3 linked regions of the Homo sapiens genome follow. The protein of the gene in region 3 purifies or fractionates together with the protein of the main gene of each other region. This does not show direct contact. Each region holds a gene or a part of one and is shown on either strand. Other genes may lie near its edges. The genes, in order: PSME4, GARS1 and PSMA4.

Region 1 (3,749 bases), on a different chromosome or scaffold from region 3:
GCATGTGTAGAGACAGAGGGTATACAGGAACTCTATACTTTCCATTCAATTTTGCTGTGAACCTAAAATTGCTCTCAGAAATAAAATTTTTGAAAAAATCAAATATGAAATATGTCTTATTGTGCTATTACATTATACAACTTTATCAAAGAAATTCATGTTCTCCAAAATCAGTTCCTTTTTTTTCCCCTTATGGAAAATCAACTTTCTCACTACAAAGAAATTTTGGTTCCCATTTTGAATGATCACTTAACAACAAAGTAAAACCTCTTCTATCACTCTCTCTAACTGGTTCTCACTGATGAGTTTGGTAACTTGTCAAGATTTCAAGATTCATTTACAAATAAAACCACTTGCATTTATTGTGTACTTCAATTTCAATACTCAAACATTAGATACTCTTAGGTGCCTCATACCAGACAATGCAGATTCAGCAGTTAGCATTTCCTTTCTTTCCCAACACGGGGATGATATGAATGTGGGTGCTCCTGTGGCCACTTATTACTTTCCACAAGAGAAGGTTTGTGTATTTGATAACTCATACCTTGACTACACCTAAGTTTCTGGTGGTTACATAATCTAATCAAATACATTATGTGGTTTCAACTGGGATAATCAATCCACGAAGGCTGCATAATATTTGTAATAATAAAACAACTGTACTTTCAATTCTAAAGGGTGCCACAGTTTTAATTAGCAATTAAAATGACTTCACATTATAATATAGTCACTTAATCATAAAACAATACAAAACATGTCACTGTAGCAAACAGGGAATCTAAATTTGCTTCATCTTACACCAAACCCACATACTTCACTAAAATCAAAATTCTGTTTAAACACACACACACACAGACACACACACACACACACGAATCATGGATGGGATAAGTTGTAGGAAACAGTAATCCATTCGCTTATTCTCCATCCTTTTCCCGCCCTTTCCTCCAGACCAGTTTACCAGTTTAAAAGGAACAAAGAACTAGAAAGGCCAAGTGATTTTTTTTTTTTTTTTTGTAAGACAAGAGTCTCCCTCTGTCGCCTAGCCTGGAGTGCAGTGGCGCCATCTCGGCTCACTGTAGCCTCTGCCTCCCAGGTTCAAGCGATTCTTCTGCCTCAGTCTATAGGCGAGTGCCACCATACCAGCCTAAATTTTGTATTTTTAGTAGAGACAGGGTTTCACCATGTTGGCCAAGGAACTCCTGACCTCAAGTAATCTCAGCCTCCCAAAGTGCAGGGATTACAGGCGTGAGCCGCCACACCCAGCGCATCCAAGTGATTTTTCCAGCAGTATGTTGTGGAGCCCTGAGGAGGTTTCAAGAGTTCTACTATCAAGGAAGTATTTTTTTTTTTAATGAGTGGGGTTTTAATTTGCCTGAGGAATCCAATTTCAAGTTTAAAATTTTGGTTGTGTGTTTTTTTGTTTTTTTTTTTTTGAGTCAGAGTCTCGCTCTGTCGCCCAGGCTGGAGTGCAATGGTGCAATCGCAGCTCACTGCAGCCAGCCTCTGCCTTCCGGGTTCAAGCAATTCTTCTGCCTCAGCCCCCCGAGTAGCTGGGACTACAGGCACCCGCCATCATGCCCGGCTAACTTTTTTTTGTATTTTCAGCAGAGACGGGGTTTCACCATGTTGGTGAGGCTGGTCTCGAACTCCTGACCTTGTGATCCACCTGCTTCAGCCTCCCAAAGTACTGGGATTACAGGCGTGAGCCGCCACGCCCAGCCAAAATTTGGTTTTTTAACACTCCACTACTGGCACTACATGGTGACTCACGCCTGTAATCCCAGCACCTTGGGAGGCCGAGATCTTGGGCGGATCATTTGGGGCCAGGAGTTTGAGACAGCCTGGGCAACATGGCAAAACCCCCTCTCTAATAAAAATACAAATATTGGTCAAGTGTGGTGGTACTCACCTGTAATCCCAGCTACTTGGAGGCAGAGACATGAGGGTTGCTTGAACCTGGGAGGCAGAGGCTGCAGTGAGCCGACATTGTGCCACTGCACTCCAGCCTGGATGACAGAGCGAGACTCTGTCTCAAAAAATATAAAAATAAAAAATAAAACACTCCACTACTTAATTTAAAGTTTGAAAAACCACTAATAATCTAAAATCTTGCCAGGATAATAATGTTAGGCAGGCCACGGTGGCTCACGCCCATAATCCGAACACTTTGGGAGGCCGGGGTGGCCAGATCATTTGAGATCAAGAGTTTGAGACTGGCCTGGCCAACATGGGGAAACCCTGTCTCTACTAAAAATACAAAAAAATTAGCCAGGCGTCGTGGCACATGCCTATAATCCCAGCTACTCTGTCTCCAAAAAAAAAAAAAGATAATAATGTTGGAGGCAAGGCCAGATACACCTCACGTACAGATAACCTGAGGTGTTCTAACGAGCACCCGCAGCCCCTCATGAAAGGTCCAGAAAGGCAAGAGGGCAAAATCAAGTTTTTTGGGGTTTTTTTCTTTGTTGTTGTTTTTAAGATGGAGTCTCGCTCTTTTGCCGAGGCTGGAGTGGCGCTTGGCTCACTGCAACCTCCACCTCCCAGATTCAAGCGATTCTCCTGCCTCAGCCTCCTGAGTAGCTGGGATTAAAGGCGTGCACCACCATGCCAGGCTAATTTTCTTAATTTTAGTAGAGATGGGGTTTCACCATGTTGGTCAGGCTGGTCTCGAACTCCTGACCTCGTGATCCGTCTGCCTCGGCCTCCCAAAGTGCTGGGATTACAGGCATAACAAAATCAAGTTTTAAGAATACCTTTCTTCAACTCCCTTCATTCTCTACATGGGCCATACAAGTTATCTACCAATATTTCACTCACAGTGTCCATGAGCTGTCTGCCATTGTCCAAAGACCATTAATTTGTTCCTACTTTCTCTAATTTGTTTCAACTTCTCTGATTTGTTTCTTCCCTTATTAAAAATTTCCCTTGTGATGTGTTACATCACACAACCTCTCTTGACCAGACAGTTCTAGTACTTTAAATTGTCTGTACAGGAAAGCCTCTATCACATGGCCAAGTATTTAAAAATATAGAAATAACCTTTCTTCAGAGATGTTAAACAGACCTGCAAGTTTCTAAATGGACTGAACTACTAAAAATGAAGAAAAAAGTCAAAAAGAAGGCTGGGGCGGTGGCTCAGCCTGTAATCCCGCACTTTGGGAGGCCGAGGCACACAGATCACCTGGGTTCGAGACCAGCCTTGCCAAAATGGTGAAACCCCGTCTCTACTAAAAATACAAAAATTAGCCAGGCGTGGCAGCGCACAACTGTAATCCCAGCTACTCAGGAGGCTGAGGCAGGAGAATCGTTTGAACCAGGGAGGTGGAGGTGGAGGTTGCAGTGAGCCACGATAGTGCCACTACACTATCTTGTGTCTGGGCAACAGAGTGAGATTGTCTCAAAAAAAAAAAAAAAAAAAAAAAAAAAAAAGTCAAAAAGAGGGACCAAATGTAAAGCCTGAGAACCTTCCAAACCAGAACTTGGTCCCAAACACACCTCTGATGTCCAGATTACGGGTGCACATTTCTGATCAGCAAGATAGTCCCACTAACTCTCAACTGCATTTACACTTTGGTCTTTAGGAATGTACTTGATCTATGCAACTGTTTCCAGTATTTTACAAATTATTCAAACAGTTCTTGTAGAAAGATACACACAATGACTGATGTGAAGCTTGACAGGATTAAAAAAATAAAACTGCAGAATACCAGAGTAGAAATGCTTCTCAAGAATTTAGTCCAGGCCGG
Region 2 (3,749 bases), on a different chromosome or scaffold from region 3:
AAAAATAAAAAAATTAGCTGGGTGTGGTGGCGCACGCCTGTAATCCCAGCTACTCAGGAGGCTGAGGCAGGAGAATCGCCTGAACCCGGGAGGCGGAGGTTGCAGTGAGCCAAGATCACGCCACTGCACTCCAGCCTGGGTGAAAGAGCGAGACTCCGTCTGGAAAAAAAAAGAAAAAGAAAAAAGAAAGAAAGAATGACTGAAGCAGCAGTGGGGAGGATGAATTGGTCGGGGAGGAGGGAAGAACGGATTTGGAGTCCTTTCAGGACTGTCCTAACATGAAAATGGATGAGACATTATTGATCTAAGGAATTTTTTAGAAATAAAATAGTTTTATTCAAAGGATATAGAATTTCAACATTTTAATAAAAATCTAAATAAAAATAAAAGTAAAACTTAAAATGATTTTTCACATTTAAAGATATTAAAATAAATTCAAAATTGCCTAGTAAAATAAAAGCCAAATAAATTATAATTAATATCAAATCTTGAAATAAAAGTGTTTAAAAATATAATTGTTCAATATTGCAGAAGGTTCTTAAGCAACCCACCCTGCTCATGTTGAATTGTAAGTACTTCTCCAGAACTGCACACTGGAACGGGAAGAGAAATAACATGGACTTTCACACCATTAGGAAAGGAGACTTCATTATACTGAGCCCGTCTACTCCTGCACACTCCTGGGGTGGGATTGTGGGTCACAGGGAGACGTACGTGCATACTGCCGAAGAGCTCCCAAGTGGCTGGCTGCACCAGTTAACACTCCCCTGAGCAGTGTAGGGGAGTCTCAGAGGGTCACTTGGCATTTTCCATCATTTTCATTTTAGCCATTTTTGCAGGTGTGCGCAATGCTGTTTTTATAACCAACACATCATTTTTCTCTTCCTTTCCTGGAGGGGGAACCCAGCTTTTCTAGGCCCTCCACCCTTTGGGCAGGAGGAACTGGGTGTGTGGGGCGGGGGGAAGCCATCTCTGGGTGGTTGGTCAGCTGGGGCCTAACCACAGGAGGCAGATAGACTGAGGCTATGCCAAGCAGAAAGACTTATCAGGCACCTCTTGCCTTTCCTCATCTCTGCCGGTTCAAATCCTGCTCGCCCCGCAAGGGCAGATTGGAATTTACCTTCTCCAGAAAGCCTGGGGTGACTCTATCCCCTCACTCCTCCTCCCCCGTTCGCCAGCTTTTGTCTTGACATCGGCGGACCAAGAATGTGTGACTCTGGGCAAATCATTAACCTCTCTGGGCCTATTTCCTTATCTGGGGAACATCTGCACTTGAGCAACAGAAGTCTAAGATCCCTATCTGATTTGATGTTTTGCGACCCTTTTAAGGCGCAGGGCGCGAAAGAACAGAAACAGAAGTGTCCGTTCAAGTAGGTCGGCCGGGGTGTCACTCGTATAAAAACCTATGCTTTGAAGGTTCTCGTGTGTCTCGGCCTGCAGGTCTCGCTCAGAGCTGTGTCCCTGAACATCCACCCTGCTGGGGTGGCTTGACGCACTTCTGTGCAAATCTGTTCGCTCGCAACCCTACCTACCTCTCTCCCGAACCGGAGAAAACCTTCGGCGGGGTCCTTCCGGGTTTTGTGTCGAATCTGCGGCGGCGACCCGGCGCCGCGTCACGCGGTGGTGAATGTGCGGCAGCACGCGCGCCGCGTCGTTTACGCGGCGATTTCATCATGCTCCGAGCCGGGCGGCGCGCGCCGCTTCCGTCGCCACCCTCTCTGGACAGCCCAGGGCCGCAGGCTCATGCCCTCTCCGCGTCCAGTGCTGCTTAGAGGTGCTCGCGCCGCTCTGCTGCTGCTGCTGCCGCCCCGGCTCTTAGCCCGACCCTCGCTCCTGCTCCGCCGGTCCCTCAGCGCGGCCTCCTGCCCCCCGATCTCCTTGCCCGCCGCCGCCTCCCGGAGCAGCATGGACGGCGCGGGGGCTGAGGAGGTGCTGGCACCTCTGAGGCTAGCAGTGCGCCAGCAGGTACCGGTGTTTTGCGCTCTCCGCTAAGCCTCCGGCTCTCCTCCCAGGGCCTTCTTCTGGTCATCCTTCCCTCCTCCCCGGGGAACTGTCCTCCTCTTCGGTTACCCCTTTCTTTCCCTTCATCCTCTGGCGTCTTCTTCGCCTCCCCCACTTTGGTCCCAAGTCCCCCGTGCGTCAGCCACCTCCTCTCCCGCGGACCTCCGTCCTCCTCTCTTTTTGGATGACTCCCTGGAACCCCTCCGACTTCCTGCGTCCCTCTCCGGCTCCGTTCTCCCTTCCCCATTCTGTCACAGCCCGCGTCTCCTCTATTTCCAGTGGGGCTGGGATCTGTGACCCTTTGGTTGTCCTCGCCTCCTAACTGAATAACCTTAACTTCAGTTTTCCAGGCTCTGCTGTACTCTTTGTGCACCCTGGGTGGAAAGCCTCCTAATTCTTTCAGTGGTCAATGATGAGCCGAAAAACTGCCGGTTCTTTCGTCTTACGGCCAGGCCCTTTAATCTTTAGGATGCTTTGATAGTGTTTCCCCCTTAACATCTTCCTTCATTCAGTGCTTAGTTTAGCGGAATGATTGGCTGAGAAAATAGAATTGAAATGTGGATGTGGGGAGGTGTCGAACTTTTCTATTAATGCTGTGAACTCATCATCCTTTGCTCTTGTCATCTTTTCTGGCTTCTGAAAAGGCCGTTTGGAACCAGTGAGCCCTCAGATCGTAAACCTGGGAAACTAAGTGTTGCGGAGTGAAGTCAGCCATCCTTAGTATGGAATATTTTGACATTTGATTTTCCCGAAGGTGAGGGAAGGTTTCATGGGCTGAAGGACTTGGTGATTTAATATAGACCTCCTTTTCCTAGGGCACTGCCATAGAGTTTAGAATTTAGAGATATCAAGGAAAAGATTATTTCAGATGATTCCCATATGCAATTAGGGAGAGCCAGAGCTTGCAGTAGGACCCCGGAGATCATGACTTAGTAGTAAACACCAAACGGGTTTCTCCTGCATGGGCGCCTGATGCAATAATTTGCCTTAGCTACAGAGGGTGGAACCCTATCTCGGAAATAATTCATTGGGGCATAGCTGCCGCAAATTCAGCCACTTTGCCATCTGTCCTCTTCGCTGGTTTGAGCCTGACCGATTTTAATAAATAGCCTTTCATTTTGAAATATCACCACGGGCTTAACTTTTTTCTTCATGATTGGTGTCAGAACACCGATTGCATATTCTGTCTCCCTCCACCCACCTTCCACTCCACAAATAAAATTAGGTGTGGTTCCTTTGTCTTTTCTTAACTTGCCATTTTAAAAAATATCCTTCCCTTTAGAAGGAAGCATACAACTAATTTGGAGAAAAAAAAAAACCACCACACCCAAACCCCTCCCTCTGCCACGTTAGCCTGGAACTGCAGTGAAAATCATCCATCGGTAGTTAAGACAGGATCTAGTTAACTAAAGTAAACTTTGATCGCGGCAGCTTTCCGATGCTACTAACTACTGTCTTGTGTATTGTTTATGTTGTCTTGATTATTGTTTTGTACTTTAAGATATTTTCCGAATATACGAGTTAGTTGATTTAAGTTAGTTTGGATATTTTTTTCTAATTTTCCAAGAACACACATATATCAGTTAGTTAATTGTGTGAATTACTGAGTCCTATGTCAGCTGAAAAATAATTTAAAGATGATCTAATTTTACCCATTTTTTGTATATGGGGAAATGAGACACACTGTCACCCCTATCCATTTTGGATAACTCCATTGTGAAGTGCAATTGAAAACCTTTCCGGAGTGG
Region 3 (3,749 bases):
CTGCACCACTGGCCCAAAAGAAATCAGCAATGAAGCAAGCTAGAAACAAATTTCCACTTTCACTCTTCTATGGTATAATCAACCTGGTGATGATAATTGCTTCAAAGTACAAAAAGGATGAACTTTGCAACTACCAAAAAAAGTTTGTAATTTTTTTTTCTAAAAGTCTAACACATTTATTTTTAAACTTGAGGCAGATTAAACAATTTCTATTTTACCTTCTGGAGAAAATATAGTGGTCCTGGAGTCATATCTTCGAGACTGCAAAGGAAAAACACATGAGTGATTCCTACCCACTGAAAGTAGGCCAACTCCTGCAAGCCTACAAATGATCTTACAAAACCTATCCTGGTATACAAAGTTCAATAGGTGAGAGGAAACTGACAAGAAAAAAGGCACCTTCTCACTGCTTTCCTTCTATTTCAATTTTCCCACTCAAGTCTGTAAACTGAGTACAAGCAATACTGTTTATCAGGCAACCGTTTATTGGCATGTGTATTAACTCACCATGTTTTCTGAACTTTATATAGTTCCTGTAAAAAGAAAATCAGATCATCATTAAAATAAGATTCACAAATTAAAAAGCATTTGCTGACTTTACAAATCTGTTTTATTTACTCCCTTTATTCAGCTAAGTGTCAGGCATTATGCTAGATGCTGGAATACCAAAATGTGTAAAACCAGTTCCTGTCCTGAAAAGCTAATACTGGCAGTTAGGTGAGAGAGGCAGTCATAGATTATAATGTGGAAAGAGGAACCGGGGGTAGGGTGGGAAAAGGGATGATGAAAGAATCAAGAAAGTATTTTTTGAGAAATCGATACAGAAAATGAAAGTAAATCAGAGATGGGAGAGGCAGAAATAAGGCTGAGAACCCTTGGGTCTAAGAGAAAGAACAGGGGAAGAAAGAAGGGCATTCCACACAGAGCAGAAAGTATGAACAAAGGGTACGGAGGCAGGATAGTTTAGTGGGCATGAGATAAACTGCTGATGCTTTTAAAATATATATAAATAAGAGCTAAGCGAGTATCCAAATCACGCAGAGCCTTGAAAGCCAAGGCAAGAGGCTGAGGCCTTCTCCAGAGAGTGATCTGGGTCCTGAACTTGGGGGTGGAGGCAGTTATCTTGGGCACCATCAGTACCATTCGTGCAAAAGGCAATACTAGGTGTTCAGCGTTATTTGGTAAAGCCTCAGTCCAAGGCCCACATTTCCAAATACTGGAATATAGGGAATCAAGACTGGAAAGGTAAGCTGGAATCAAATCCTGGAGAGCCCGCGTGCCCAGGTAAAAACAGAATTTTATCTCTCAGCCAATGGGGCTCCTCTGAATGATTCCCAAGGCCCACAGGAACTGATTGGCATTTTAAATGATCACTCTGGCTGGTGAGAGACCGAGGGCAGCGAACTGGTTGAGGTAATTGCAATAGGAATGGTGCAAAGTAAGGATGGCACAGAGCAGAGAAGCAGGGAGGACACAGAGACACTCGCCGGGGATTTCTGATTCGAGCTTTAAGCACAACTTTCTGTTGTCTCCACGCCTGACGCCGGGCACAGCACTATTTTGAGTTCACCGGCACCTCCGGGAGAGCTAACTTTCACGTACCGAACTCCTGAGGACGGAAGCCACCCCAACTCTCGGTCCTGCCCACAGACCCCCACCCTCAGCCCGCCCCCTCGCGGGCCCCGGCGTCCAGGCTTGGCACTGGGAAGCCCCCGACGGCGGCCGGCGGGGGCCATTCCCGGCGGTCGGTCCGTCACAGAGGAGGCGGTGCAGAGTCATCGTGCCCACGGCTCCTCGGCGGCAACTGCAGGCCGGGACCGACTGTCTTGACGTTCACGACCCCCGCCCAATGGGAAAGCGGCCAAGCTTCCGCGGGCCCCAAGGGGCCAAAGGCTCACCAGATGGAAGACCCTGAAGACCTGAGATGTCCACGGAGCCCTTAACTCCACGGAAGAATAAACCACCACCGCTCACCGAATAACCGCTGCTAATATGGCCCCCGCGCATGCGCAGAACCGCTGGGTTGGGGCGGGGGGAGCGGGACGGCCGAGGACGCGGAAGTCCTTCTTGCGGGGCGGAGCTAGAACCCGTGCCCCTCGTGGGAGCTGGGTCGCGGGGGTGCTGAGGCTCTGGGGCGCTGCAGCTTAGGCTAGGGTCCTCAGCAGGTGGAGGAGTTGCTGTGCCATGGGGAAGAGGGCAGGAAGACAGTAGCCAACCAGGAGGTGGAATAGCTAATTTCTTTCTCTTACCCTTGGCGCTCTCCTTTCATTTTCTCTTCACTATTCAGACCTAGGATAGCAAATAGTGTGGACCGGCTTCTTAATTGCTATCATTCCTGTCCTGTTTCCCAAAATGGTTCCAACCACATGAGACTTTACCCCTCTCATCACCTTCCTTTTTCATTCTGGCTTTCACTTTTACTGCTGATGCATACATTTTGGACATACACATTATGATGAGGAAGGCCGGGTGGCTCATGCCTGTAATCCCAGCACCTTGGGAGGTCGAGGCGGGTGGATCACCTGAGGTCGGGAGTTCGAGACCAGCTTGGCCAACATGGTGAAACCGTCTCTACTAAAATTAACAAAAATTAGCCGGGTGTGTGGTGCACGCCTGTAATCCCAGCTACTTGGGAGGCTGAGGCACGAGAATCGCTTGAACTCGGGAGGCGGAGGTTGCAGTGAGCCGAGAGTGCGCCACTTCACTCCAGCCTGAGACTCCATCTCAAAAAAAAAAAAATTATGATGAGGGTCGAGCATGGTGACTCATGCTTGTAATTACACCGCTTTGGGAGGCTGAGGCAGGAGGATGGCTTGAGGCTAGGAGTTTGGAGGCTGCAGTGAGCTATGATCGCACCACTGCACTCCAGCCTGGGTGACAGAGAAAGACACTGGCTCTAAAAATTAAATTAAAAAAAATTATGATCAGGTTCACACTTTTGGGGGAATTTTCACCTTGGTCTCTTTCTCTGCTTTTCACCAGTCAGAAAGGATTTCCCTGACCAGCACAGTTAAAGCAATACCCTACCGTCAGCATATACTCGCACCATTTTATCTTCTTTACTGAAATTGTCATACTTGTTTCTGTGTTCATTATCCATCTCTCCACCTTTTTGCTCATTCAGCCTCGGTCCGTATGTAAACTATCTACTATGCATTTTAGGTTTTTTCAGGCTAGAAGGTTGACTAGATCTGGGTTAATATGAAGTCATCTGCTCACAGTCTCTCCCAAAAAGCAGCCCACTGGGCAGAAACTCCTCTTCATGTTGGTTGCAAAATTATTGGGGGATCTGGGCTTTGAAAAGGAGATAGCTTGGAAGTAAGTTACATTTTGAGGTCTCGCCTATCGTCTCTACTTTCCAAGCACACAGGGAAGTGAGCCAAGGCAAGATGGCAAAGAGCCACACGCAGGTGGTGCTCTGAAAGCATCCTCAGGTGGTGTAACTTATGGCATCTCTGAGGGCCCCTGCCTGCCACCTTAGTTCATTCTGCGGAATTCAGTGAACAGTCACTTTTAAGTGAGAGGTAGAATTTCTCAGGTCAAGAGAGGGATTCCTTGAGAAAAAGGGCAAGAGAAGAATGAGTCTGACAAGTGTGGGTGACTGAGTAGTTCGGTCTGATCTGAATGGAGGAGATAATACAGGAAGTAAGGAAAGGCATTTGAGGCCTAAGTGTAGAGTGCCTTTAATGCCAGAATTTGTTTTGGTCAGTAATGGGAAGACAGGATTAAAGTGATGTTTTAGGATGATG

Evidence for each region.
Region 1: the proteins of PSMA4 (region 3) and PSME4 purify together in Homo sapiens (affinity purification with mass spectrometry; 4 studies listed by BioGRID and IntAct, with this or other methods). This does not show direct contact.
Region 2: the proteins of PSMA4 (region 3) and GARS1 purify together in Homo sapiens (affinity purification with mass spectrometry; 2 studies listed by BioGRID, with this or other methods). This does not show direct contact.

The regions. Positions count from the first base shown.
Region 1 is NC_000002.12:53,964,248-53,967,996, forward strand, and holds part of PSME4 (proteasome activator complex subunit 4), read right to left. Parts: intron 1-3,749. UniProt on the Homo sapiens protein: Associated component of the proteasome that specifically recognizes acetylated histones and promotes ATP- and ubiquitin-independent degradation of core histones during spermatogenesis and DNA damage response.
Region 2 is NC_000007.14:30,593,179-30,596,927, forward strand, and holds the start of GARS1 (glycine--tRNA ligase isoform 1 precursor), read left to right. Parts: upstream 1-1,699; 5' UTR 1,700-1,743; coding exon 1,744-1,965; intron 1,966-3,749. UniProt on the Homo sapiens protein: Catalyzes the ATP-dependent ligation of glycine to the 3'-end of its cognate tRNA, via the formation of an aminoacyl-adenylate intermediate (Gly-AMP).
Region 3 is NC_000015.10:78,538,689-78,542,437, reverse strand, and holds the start of PSMA4 (proteasome subunit alpha type-4), read right to left. Parts: upstream 1,995-3,749; 5' UTR 1,899-1,994; intron 1,653-1,898; exon of another isoform or gene 1,603-1,652; intron 534-1,602; 5' UTR 511-533; coding exon 508-510; intron 262-507; coding exon 219-261; intron 1-218. UniProt on the Homo sapiens protein: Component of the 20S core proteasome complex involved in the proteolytic degradation of most intracellular proteins. This complex plays numerous essential roles within the cell by associating with different regulatory particles.